Linked DNA regions of Homo sapiens: region 2 is linked to region 1. Evidence: fine-mapped expression QTL. A gene starts in region 1. The other region holds a variant in brackets. All regions are shown on one strand. Distances are between the middles of the regions. Region 1 holds the start of SYT17 (synaptotagmin 17). Region 2 overlaps SYT17 (synaptotagmin 17).

The links.
Region 2: its variant is fine-mapped to the expression of SYT17 in whole blood (TOPMed, PIP above 0.99).

Annotation. Positions count from the first base shown.
Region 1 is chr16:19,165,825-19,171,194 of GRCh38, reverse strand. SYT17 (synaptotagmin 17) reads right to left here and starts at 2,955. Exons shown (of 8, transcript NM_016524.4): 1 at 2,534-2,955. The coding sequence starts at 2,548. RefSeq lists an enhancer at 2,371-3,118 and a silencer at 3,310-3,559.
Region 2 is chr16:19,209,377-19,214,746 of GRCh38, reverse strand. The region is part of intron 5 of SYT17 (synaptotagmin 17); the gene reads right to left. Among named protein-coding and RNA genes, the nearest start is that of SYT17, 44 kb to the right of the region's middle. The variant G/A (reference allele first, on the strand shown) is at 2,466.

The DNA.
Region 1 (5,370 bases):
AACTCTCTAAAGCCAAAACTCAAACCATACACAGAACAAGACCCAAAGGTGCTGAGGGGCCACGCAACAAGCTGAGCCAGGAAGTACTAGAGTCCTAGTCTCACCATCGACTGATCATGTGACTTGGGCAAGACAGGGGGCCTCTCTGAGCCTCGGTTACCTCTTCTTTAGTGGAAAGGCTACTCTATACCTCAAAGGCGTGCTGTTGAGGTGGGACAGGACACTGACTATGCAAATACTTGCGTGCGGTCCAGCTGAAAAATAAAATGCACCCTTTCTGTGATGAGAATTAGGTGATTGTCAAGACCTAGTGGAACCCAGTAGGCACTGGGTATTGTCCCGGCAGGTACAGCAGGGCACAAAACAGCAAAATATTATACCCTCATAGGGCTTGCATGAAAAAGTGCTTTAGAATGTTAGGATAAAGTGATACTTTTTCATAATAATCTATGACCATTTTCTGAATACAGGGAAGCATTTCCTAGACATGTGGTGGTCAAAAGAGGCCATTTATGAAACCAAAGTGAACAGAGACAAGGTCACCTCATGGCCCTGCTGAAAAACAGCCTCCCCAACTTTCTCAAAGCCCAGGTGCAAGATGAGTGTCAAGGAGCAGAGAGAAAGCAAAGAAGATGAAAGAGGGTGCCCTGACATTCCCAGGCATGCTGAGTCTTTCTGGCATTGGGTCTCCTGGGCTCACGTGTTTGACACCGATGGAAGAGAACCAATTCACACCAGAAAGAAAGAGGAAGAAAGACAACCCATGCATTCTAAACAGAGGTTGGCAAACTAAGGCTCGCAGATCAAAACCAGCCCCGCAGCCTGTTTTGCTACAGCCCTTGAGCTAAGAATAATTTGTGAGTTTTTAAAAGGTTGAAAAAAAAAAAAGATGAATGCCTCTTGACTCGTGCAAAGTATACAAAATTCAAATTTTGGTGCCTGCAAATAAAGTTTTATTGGAACACAGCCACGCCCACTCATTTACTACTGTCCATAGCAGTTTTGGTGCTATAGTCAGAGTGGAATAGTTGTGACAGAGACCATGTGAGCCTCCAAGAGAAAAAAAATAGTATCTGGCACTTTACAGGACAACAAAGTTTAACACCTTGTTCTAGAAGGAAAACCAACATCACTGGGTCATCGCCATATGAGATGCTTAACATATCTACCACAGTCCCCTCTTGAGATCCCACCTTGACCCCTAAGCAGCTATGTGGCCTTGGGCAAGTCACTTAATTTCTCTGTGCTGAAGGCGGCCATTAAGAACTCCAGGAGCCGGTAATCATGTTCATTTCTCACTAAATTGCGCACCCAGAGGGGCAGGAACTGTGCTGTTTTCATCACTGTATCCCCAGTGCCAGCACTTAGTAGGCGGTCGCCCAAGTGTTTGTTGGGCGACTACTCAATAGCCCCTGGACAACATTCAGCACACAGTGGGTGGACAGTAATGTGACCTTCATTGAACTTGAAGAGAAACTGGCGATTCCACGAAAGGGAAGCCAATTCAGGGAATCTAAGGCAGGAGATGAATGGAAGAGGCTCCGCCAGGTGACACAGCACAGAGTTCCCGGCAGGCTGAAGCGTCTGAGGACACGATGAGGGGATATGTGACCCAGAGGGGAATGGGAGGACCAGCAGCACCCCCAGCTGTGGCTGAGGGGACAAGATGTGAGCCAAGATGCACCCTGGACGTGGGAGTCTGTAAGCTTCTCTGCCCAGCTCAGAGGCGCCAGCGCCAGAAGCAAGCAGCTCAACGGGTCTCACTGCGGGTCTGCCTGCTTGACCTTGGCGCTGACCTGCGGTCACTTCCCTTCTTGCAGAGGAGAAAGGTCTTTTCACCAAGAAGCCCGGCCCACCCCTCCGCCCCCTCCCCCCAAAAAAGGCTGCTTAGAAATTATTTCAGAATTATTTCAGCCCAAGGATTCTTGGGGGACGTTTCTTCAAGGTGAAGAGGGTCCACATCTCCCAGACCCCAATGCAGCGGAGTAAAGTAACAGGCTCCCTTCTCTTCACCAGCGCGCCTCTGGCCTCTGGGTGTCCCCCACCCCTCAGCACCCAGTGCCCAGGAGAGACGACGTCCTTGTCCCTCCTGGTCGGAACAGCTGCCTCAGGCTCGCTCCGCCGGCCAATTAGCCGGAGCCGTCACCACGGCAACGGCAGCTGGCGGGCCGGGTGGCTGGCGCGCCCCGGGCCGCCCTCCCCACGGCCCCTCCCCTGGGGTGGGGTGCCAAGGAGAGGGAGGGGGCAGGGGAGAAGAAAAGTCCGCCCCACCCCCCATTCCCTCCCCAAGAGGCAAGGGCGCGCGTTGCAGAGTACACATAGGACCCTCCATCCCGGGGTTTGGGGGTCCCCAGTCTCTCCTCCCGGGGCGCACCCCTGTTGCTGCACAGGTTGCCCGCGCACGGGCACCCTTTTTCTCGAAGCAAGTTTGTGGGAGCCTAGCCGTGGGCCCTCCCTTCCGCGCGCTCCCAGCCGGAGGGGGCGCGGCACCCCCTACCCGCACCCCGGACCTTGCCCCCAGCCTCAGCCCTACCTGGATGTACGCCATTTTCGCCCGCGCGCACTCACTCCGGCCCGGGCATGGCGCCGCCACGGCCACTTTGCCCTCGCCAACAGCGGAGGGGGAAGAAAGCAAAGGGGGAAAGGAAGAAAAAGGCAGCCGGTGGCCCCAGACGTGACTGGCGTGGCTGATGAGCGGCGCCCGCCCCTCCGCCGGCCGCCCCGTCCTTGCCTTTCCCTGCGTTCCGGCTCTCGGAATCGGGGCCGCCTCCCCGGTTCGGAGATATCGGGCGCCCAGGGCCCCCGCCTCGGCCTCCCTCGCTGTCCCGTGCTCCCCACCGAGGCGCTCCCCAGGCTGGAATAAGGCCGGGGCGCCTGGGCAAGCAGCCCGGGGCAGCTGCGGGGACTGCAGCGACCCCAGCGCAGGCGGGGCCGGAGACGCCGGGGCCGGAGCGCGCAGGAGGCGGGGGAGGGGATGGGAATGGGGAAGGGGGTGGGAGGGGGCGGTACACAGGTCAGCCCATCCTGCTGGCACGGGGGCTGGCACCTACCGAAAGCAGCGCCCCCGGGGCAGCCGTGGAGCCGAGGGGACACAGTGCAGCCTGCCATGAAGTCTGCAGCAGGGAGGGTCCTTCCCATCCAGCCCTCTCCCCAAACTGGGTTGGAAAAACTTTATTCCCGCCCCACCCGACGCGCCTAGCACGGTTGCGGTGAGGCTTGCAGAGGCTGCGTGGATGGGAGCCTCAAGTTAAGGTGGGCGTAGGGCGTCCCAAACGGAGGTGCTGCGTCCAGGGCTGCAGGGGGCGCGCGGAGAGAGCGGAGCGCCCCTTTACCCTAAACCTGCCGGAGTTGCGCCCTGGACGCAACAGGTCTAGCGCGGGGCGGCCCGGCAGCGCCACCCAGCGTCGTGCCCGGCCTCGTGCGCTCCTCTGCCCACGGGCAGGCGGCCGCCAGCGAGCGTGCGCCCCGGGGCGTGTCCACCGCCGCCCTCCTGCCTGTCCTCGTGGCTGGGGCGCCCTGGACCCAGAGGCCTCCATCAAACCTCCCAGCCCAAGGCCTCTGGCTCTCCACTCAGAGATTCGAGGTGGAACATTGCCCTCCGCTGGATTTCTTATTTTATTTTATTTTATTTTATTTTATTTTATTTTATTTTATTTTATTTTATTTTATTTTATTTTTGACACAGGGTGTCACTCTGTCACCCAGGCTGGAGTGCACTGGGGTAATCTTGGCTCACTGAAACCTCCGCCTCCCAGGTTCAAGGGATTCTCGTGTCTCAGCCTCCCGAGTAGCTGGGACTACAGGCACATGCCACCACGCCCACTAATTTTTGTATTTTTGGTAGAGAAAGGGTTTCACCATGTGGGCCAGGCTGGTCTCGAACTCCTGGCCTCAAGTGATCTGCCTGCCTCGGCCTCCCAAAGTGCTGGGATTAGGGGCGTGAGCCACTGCGCCGGGCCGGTTTTCTTTTTAATATGCCCAGTCATCTCCTGTTGCCGGACACCAGCTTATCAGCATTTTAATTTTAACCTCCCAGTGCCTCTTTTTCCTCAGTAAAAACAGGAGAAAATCTCCACCCTGCCTATCCTCCAGGGCTGATTTGTGGGAATAAATGAGAAAATGAATATGGGAGTAACAAAAGATGGATATTCAGATGCATATATTTTTTGTCTAAAAATCTAGCAGACCTATACATTTTTTAGTATGATATATTTAGTTTGTAGCATATAGCACGTAACGCATATTGAGTGCTTATGATTCTGCAGGCATACACGCCTCAACACTTCACAAGCGTTATTTCATTTCAACCTGCAGTACCTTGATCACTCCTATTAGGTAGCACCTGTCCAGCCAGAGTAGGCACTCAGTAATTGTTTTTGTTGCCTTATTCACTCTGCTTCCTGAGGGAGGTGCTATGATTATCTCCAATTTATGAGGGACTGCAGCCCAGACAGGTAAAGCCTCTATGAAGGCCTGACAGCTGGTAGCCCAGGGCACTGACATTTGAACCCACAAGTCCAGCAGTGAACCCAAAGTGGCCACTCCTAACCACTTTGTGGTATTTATCCACAATCTTTCTCCAGCACTGATGGCAAGGCATGCCAGGTGGGGAGTGAGCCTCACAGAGGAGGATGCCTATTGGAACGGGTGCTCCTTGGGGGCACTTGAGGGAGTTCGAGGAATTTGCTAGGTGTTCCCATAAGTAAAAATAGTTAACCCTTTTTCACCTGAGGTCAGGAGTTCGAGATCAGCCTGGCCAACATGGCGAAACTCCGTCTCTACTAAAAATACAAAAAATAGCCGGGCATGGTGGCAGGTGCCTGTAATCCCAACTACTCAGGAGGCTGAGGCTAGGAGAATCACTTGAACCTGGGAGGCGGAGGTTGCAGTGAGCTGAGATCGTGCCACTGCACTCCAGCCTGGGTGACAGAATGAGATACCATCTCAAAAAAAAAAAGTTAACCCTTTTTGAGGTCTGTGTACCAGGCACTGTTTTCAGCCCTTTACACAAATTTTGATCTTTTAATTCTCTGATTACCATGAGGTAGGCACAAGTACTATCCCACTCTTTAGGTGAGAAAAAAAGAGGCATTAAGAGGTGAAGTTGGCCAGGCATGGTGGCTCATGCCTGTAATCCCAGCACTTTGGGAGGCCAAAGTGGGTGGATCACTTGAGGCCAGGAGTTCAAGACCAGCCTACAAAAAGTTTCTTTACAAAATACAAAAATTAGCCCGGCATTGGTGGCTCACACCTGTAGTCCCAGCTACTTGGGAGACTGAGGCTGGAGAATCGCTTGAGCCCAGGAGATTGAGGCTATAGTGAGCTGAGATCACACCACTGCACTCTAGCCTACATGACAGAGTAAGACCC
Region 2 (5,370 bases), 44 kb before region 1:
TTCAGGGCTTGGGGGCCTCAGAGCCTTATCCTAACCCAGCCCTGGAGGAAAAGGAGAGTTGCCATCACACTCAGGGTCTCTGCCCCAGAATATGTTGTACGTATGAATAACATCGTTCACTTGGGCATCATAAATGTCGGCTCTAACAATCTAGGGACAAAAATGTCCCTGGGGTGTTCCTGGAGCCAGCATCTTCTCAGTCCTTCTTCCCTAGAAGTATCAGATGCTACATCTAAAAGCTGACGAGGGCCAAGCATGGTGGCTCATGCCTATAATCCAAGAGCTTTAGGAGGTCAAAGTGGGAAGATCAATTGAGCCCAGGAGTTCGGAGCTGCAGTGAATGTTGGTGGTGCCACTGCACTCCAGCCTGGGCAACAGAGCAACACATGGTCTCTAATTTAAAACAAAACAAAAAAAGCTGACCAGGAGCCAGCTGATAAGGAGCTTAGAATGTAGGAACAGAAAGCAGGACCATCTAGTCCAGCAGCTCCTCAACTTGCCCCACTTAGGAAGATCATGAAATTAATGGTGATCTTTACAGACATCCATGAGGTGCTAGGACATCCAACTTGCATCAACCTGGGGTAATTTTGTCCTCTCTGCTGCCACCTCCAGGGACATTTGGCAACATCTGGAGATGTTTTAGTTGTCATAACTGGGGAATAGGGTAGGGTCTGCTACTGGCATCTAGTGGGTAGAGAGAGACCAGGGATGCTGCCAAACATCCTACAAGGTACAAGACAGCCCCCCTCAACAAGGAATGGTCTGGCCCAAAATATCACTAGTGCCAAAGGTGAGAAATCCTGAACTAAGCCTATAAATCTTGGGCTGATTCAGATTTTTTAAATACATAACTGTACCCTGAACAAAATTTTAACAGGAACCGAAGACTTGGAACTTTTGGTATAAGAACAGTTCGTCAGGTGCAGTGGCTTGAGCCTCTAATCCCAACTACTCGGGAGGCTGAGGTGGGAAGATGGGTTGAGGCCAGGAGTTTGAGGCCAGCCTGGGCAACAAAGCAAAACCTTCCCACCTTCCATTTCTAAACTTTCTTTATTTTTATTTTTTAATTAGCTTAGCATGGTGGCATGCATCTGTGGTCCCAGATACTCAGGAGGCTGAGACAGGAGGAATGCTTGAAGCCAAGAGTTTGAGGCTATCTGATGCGAGAAGCTCCTCTTCAAAGGTTTAGCTTGTTTAGTTTCCTTGTTCTTTGTTCTCTACTTTTAAGGCCAAACTTCCTTGCTCTCTGTACCTCCCTGTCTTGGTTTCAGTAAACAACTCTTCCACTGGTCCTTATCTACAGAGCCTACATCTACTACCCACTCTGTAAATTACCCCTCCCATCACAGCAGCTCTTCCCACCAAAACTGTCCTTCCTGCCAGTGTAACCGCATTCCCGCACTTTCCAAGTTAGCCAACCAGGTTCAGCTTAGATTGTGTGGTCCAACTCCAACCTGTGGAGGCAGGACACAGTAGCAGGGACAAGCTACGTTAGGGATAAAAACCCCTTCCCTCCTTTGTTCAGTGCACTCTCATGATGACTAGACCTGTGAGAAACACCTTCCTACAGAAGTAAATTTTGCCTTACTGGGAAATCCTTTGTTTTAGTGCTCATTTTCTTTGTGACACTGCACATTTGTTTCTAACAAGGCTTTAGTAAGCTATGATTGAACCCCTGCACTCTAGCCTGGGAGGCACAGCAAGACCCTGTCTCTTAAGAAGAAAGAAAAGTCTATTCACTGCCTCCACTGAGTCTGTCTTCAGTCCCCTCTGGATCTGAAGAGGCCAAAGCACCAGCCACAATCCAGAGCCCAGAAAGATCCAGCTAAGATTTCCTTCCTTCTTCTTTCTCCTTAAGCCATTCTTTTTCACTGCAAAGTGGACATCCAAGCACCAAATACAAAAATCCTCCTAGGAAGTGGGTTCAGCCCTCCCAAGGAAAATGGATTGCTTGTTCTGGTAGGATCTCCAACTCTGTGAAGTCTTCCTTATCCAAATTTAGTGAGATAAGATTGGAATGTCAGAGCTGAAATAATTTAGACCAATATTCTGGTTTTCTAAAAGAAAACGGAACCATGCCATTACCTCACTTCCCCGTTTATTTCTTATTTATTTATTTATTGTGACAGGAATCTCGCTCTGTGGCTCAAGTTGGAGTGCCCTGGCACAATCTTGGCTCACTGTCGCCTCTGCCTCCTGGGTTCAAGTGATTCTTGTGCCTCAGCCTCCCGAGTAGCTGAGATTACAGGCATGAGCCCCCATGCCCAGCTAATTTTTGTATTTTTAGTAGAGATAGGGTTTTACCATGCTGGCCAGGCTGGTCTCGAACTCCTGACCTCAAGTGATCTGCCCACCTTGGCCTCCCAAAGTGCTGGGATGACATGTGTGAGCCACCATACCCGGCCTCACTTCCCTGTTTAAAACCCTCCATCTCTCAAAATAAAATTCAAAGTGCTTAGCCT[G/A]GTCAACAACAGGGTTTGTCAACCTCAGCACTATTGCCACTTTGGGCTGGAGCATTCTGTGTTGTGGGAGCTGTCCTGTGCGCTACAGGAAGTTTAGCAGCATCTCTGGCCTCTACACACTGGATGCCAGCGGCATCACCCCTCTCCCCAGTGGTAAAGTCTCAGAATGTCTCCAGACATCGTCAAATGTCCACTGAGGGCAAAAATCACCCAGTTGAGAACTAATGGTCTCTAAAATAATTTATCTACGGGATCGAAATGATTTGATCCAAATGATTTGATTCCTGCCTACCTCTGAGACTTCACTCACCAACCGCCTCTGCCTTCTTTCTATTCTTTAAAAATACAAGATCATTGGCCAGGCACGGTGGCTCACACCTGTAATCCCAGCATTTTGGGAGGCTGAGGCGGGCGGATCACGAGGTCAGGAGATCGAGACCATCCTGGCTAACACAGTGAAACCGAGTCTCTACTAAAAATACAAAAATATTAGCCGGGCTTGGTGGCGGGCGCCTGTAGTCCCAGCTACTTGGGAGGCTGAGGCAGGGGAATGCCGTGAACCCGGGAGGTGGAGCGGAGCTTGCAGTGAGCTGAGATCCCGCCACTGCACTCCAGCCTCGGCGACAGAGCGAGACTCTGTCTCAAAAAAAAAAAAAATACAAGATCGTACCTGCCCCAAGGCTTGAACTTGCTATTCCCTGGGAATCTCAACTCAACAGTCACCTCCTCATCTAAGCTTCCCATTAACACTCAGTTGAAAACACCCCTCTGCCTCCATCATTTCCCATCACACCACCTTGTCATTTCCTTCACGGTACTTGGTCCTTACCTTTTTCTCCATAAAGGCAAAGAAAGTGCCCATGTGTCCACTACTATATTCACAGCACCAGAAACAAATCCAAGATCAAGCAGTGCAGCCCCCAACACAGAGGCTGAGCTGCTGCCACACCACGGGCCGAGAGGGGTTGTCAGCACGATGTTCCACCCCCTGTCCTATCCAACCCCCACAGAATCGAAGCCAAGACAGGAGAAGGAACTGGGTGACAGGCCCACTTCTACCTCGTCCCTTGTGGAAGCGATGTCACAAATAAACAGGCCTCATTTCCTTTCTTGTAAGAGCCCGATGCGCTTAATTTGGTCGAACCACGTGGGGTGGGCTAGGGAGAACCAAAATAGACAATCTGTAAATTACTCAGATGAATCCAGCAGCCGGCTTGGGCAAATGTGGCTCAGCTCTCTCCTCTCTACCCAGACAAAAATTCTCTCTCCCGGCAGCCTTTCAACACAGTTAATTTCTAATCAATAAAAAGGAAATCAAAGAAAATCATCTGGGACAAAAGACATTTTCTGGAGATAGCAAGAGCCCAGCTCTCCTCCTGACAGGTTTGCTTTGAACTCCTTCTCTATGGTCCTTTCGCTCTCTCTCACCTAGCAAAGGGTTTCAAATGTGCGCACACAAATTTTAGTGAAGCCCAAACACAGCTGCTCTGCGCCCCCTTATGCCTTTGCTCTCACCGGTTGGATAAAGTCTATTGTCTCTTAATCTGCTGCACAAACAACATTAAAATAGAAATGGATTTTTTAAAAAGCAAACTCCAACCGCAATGCCAGTGCTTTACACATTTCATCAAATGCTTTCACTTCCTTTTCTTTCTTCTTCTTTCTTCTCTTCACTTTTTTTCCCAGTCTTTGTCAATACCTCAACCCTGTATTTGCATAGCTGCATTGACAATACAGTCACATTCTGAAATACCCTTTAAGAAAAAAAAAGGGTATTTAAAAAAAAAAAATACCCTTTAAAAAAAAATACCCTTTTAAAAAAAAATACCCTTAGATCAGAGGGGAGAGGATAAAGAGAAGTGGGTTAAAGGGTACAAACATACAGTTAGTGAGAAGGAAAAAATTCAATGTTTGGGGCTGGGCACGGTGACTCACGCTTGTAATCCAAGCACTTCGGGAGGCCAAGGTGGCAGGATCACTTGAAGCCGGGAGTTCAGGACTCCTGCCTCAAGCAAGACTCCGTCTCAATTAAAAAATAATAATAATAAATGTTTGATAGTAGAGTAGTGTTACTATATTTAACAAAAATGTATTGTACCAGAATGATAGAAGCCCTAAATACTATGACTTTATCACTATATATTACATATGTAACAAAATTTCATGTGTACCTCATAAATTTGTACTAATAAAAATAAAATAATAAAATATAATAAAACTAAAAGAATTACACACACATTTTCCATGTGACTATCTAGACATTATAAGTGTCATTATAAATGTTCACATACAACATTCCATTAGGCTGAAATACTGTAACTTATATTAACCATTTTCCTATTGCTAGATACTTAGGGTTTTTTGTTGTTGTTGTTGTTGTTTTTGTTTTGTTTTGTTTTGTTTTGAGACAGAGTCTTGCTCTGTCTCCCAGGCTGGAGTGCAGTGGCACGATCTCAGCTCACTGCAAGTTCCGCCTCCCGGGTTCACGCCATTCTCCTACCTCAGCCTCCCGAGTAGCTGGGACTACAGGCGCCCACCACCACGCCCGGCTAATTTTTTTTTTTTTGTATTTTTTAGTAAAGACAGGGTTTCACCATGTTAGCCAGGATGGTCTCGATCTCCTGACCTTGTGATCCGCCCACCTCGGTCTCCCAAAGTGCTGGGATTACAGGCGTGAGCCACCGCGCCCAGCCGAAATGTTGACTTTCTATGTGAGTGCAATGCCCTTCCTCCATAAGCCCCCAGTGAGGCTGACAAGCTGCATTTCACACTGGATTATATTGGTCTGTTATTGTCAGGCTTTTCATTAGTCTCATCTGATGGGTATCTTGTGGGTTTAATCTGGGTTTCCCTGACTGCTAAAGAGGTGAGCACCTTGTTGTGTTATCAGCTACTTATGCTTTCT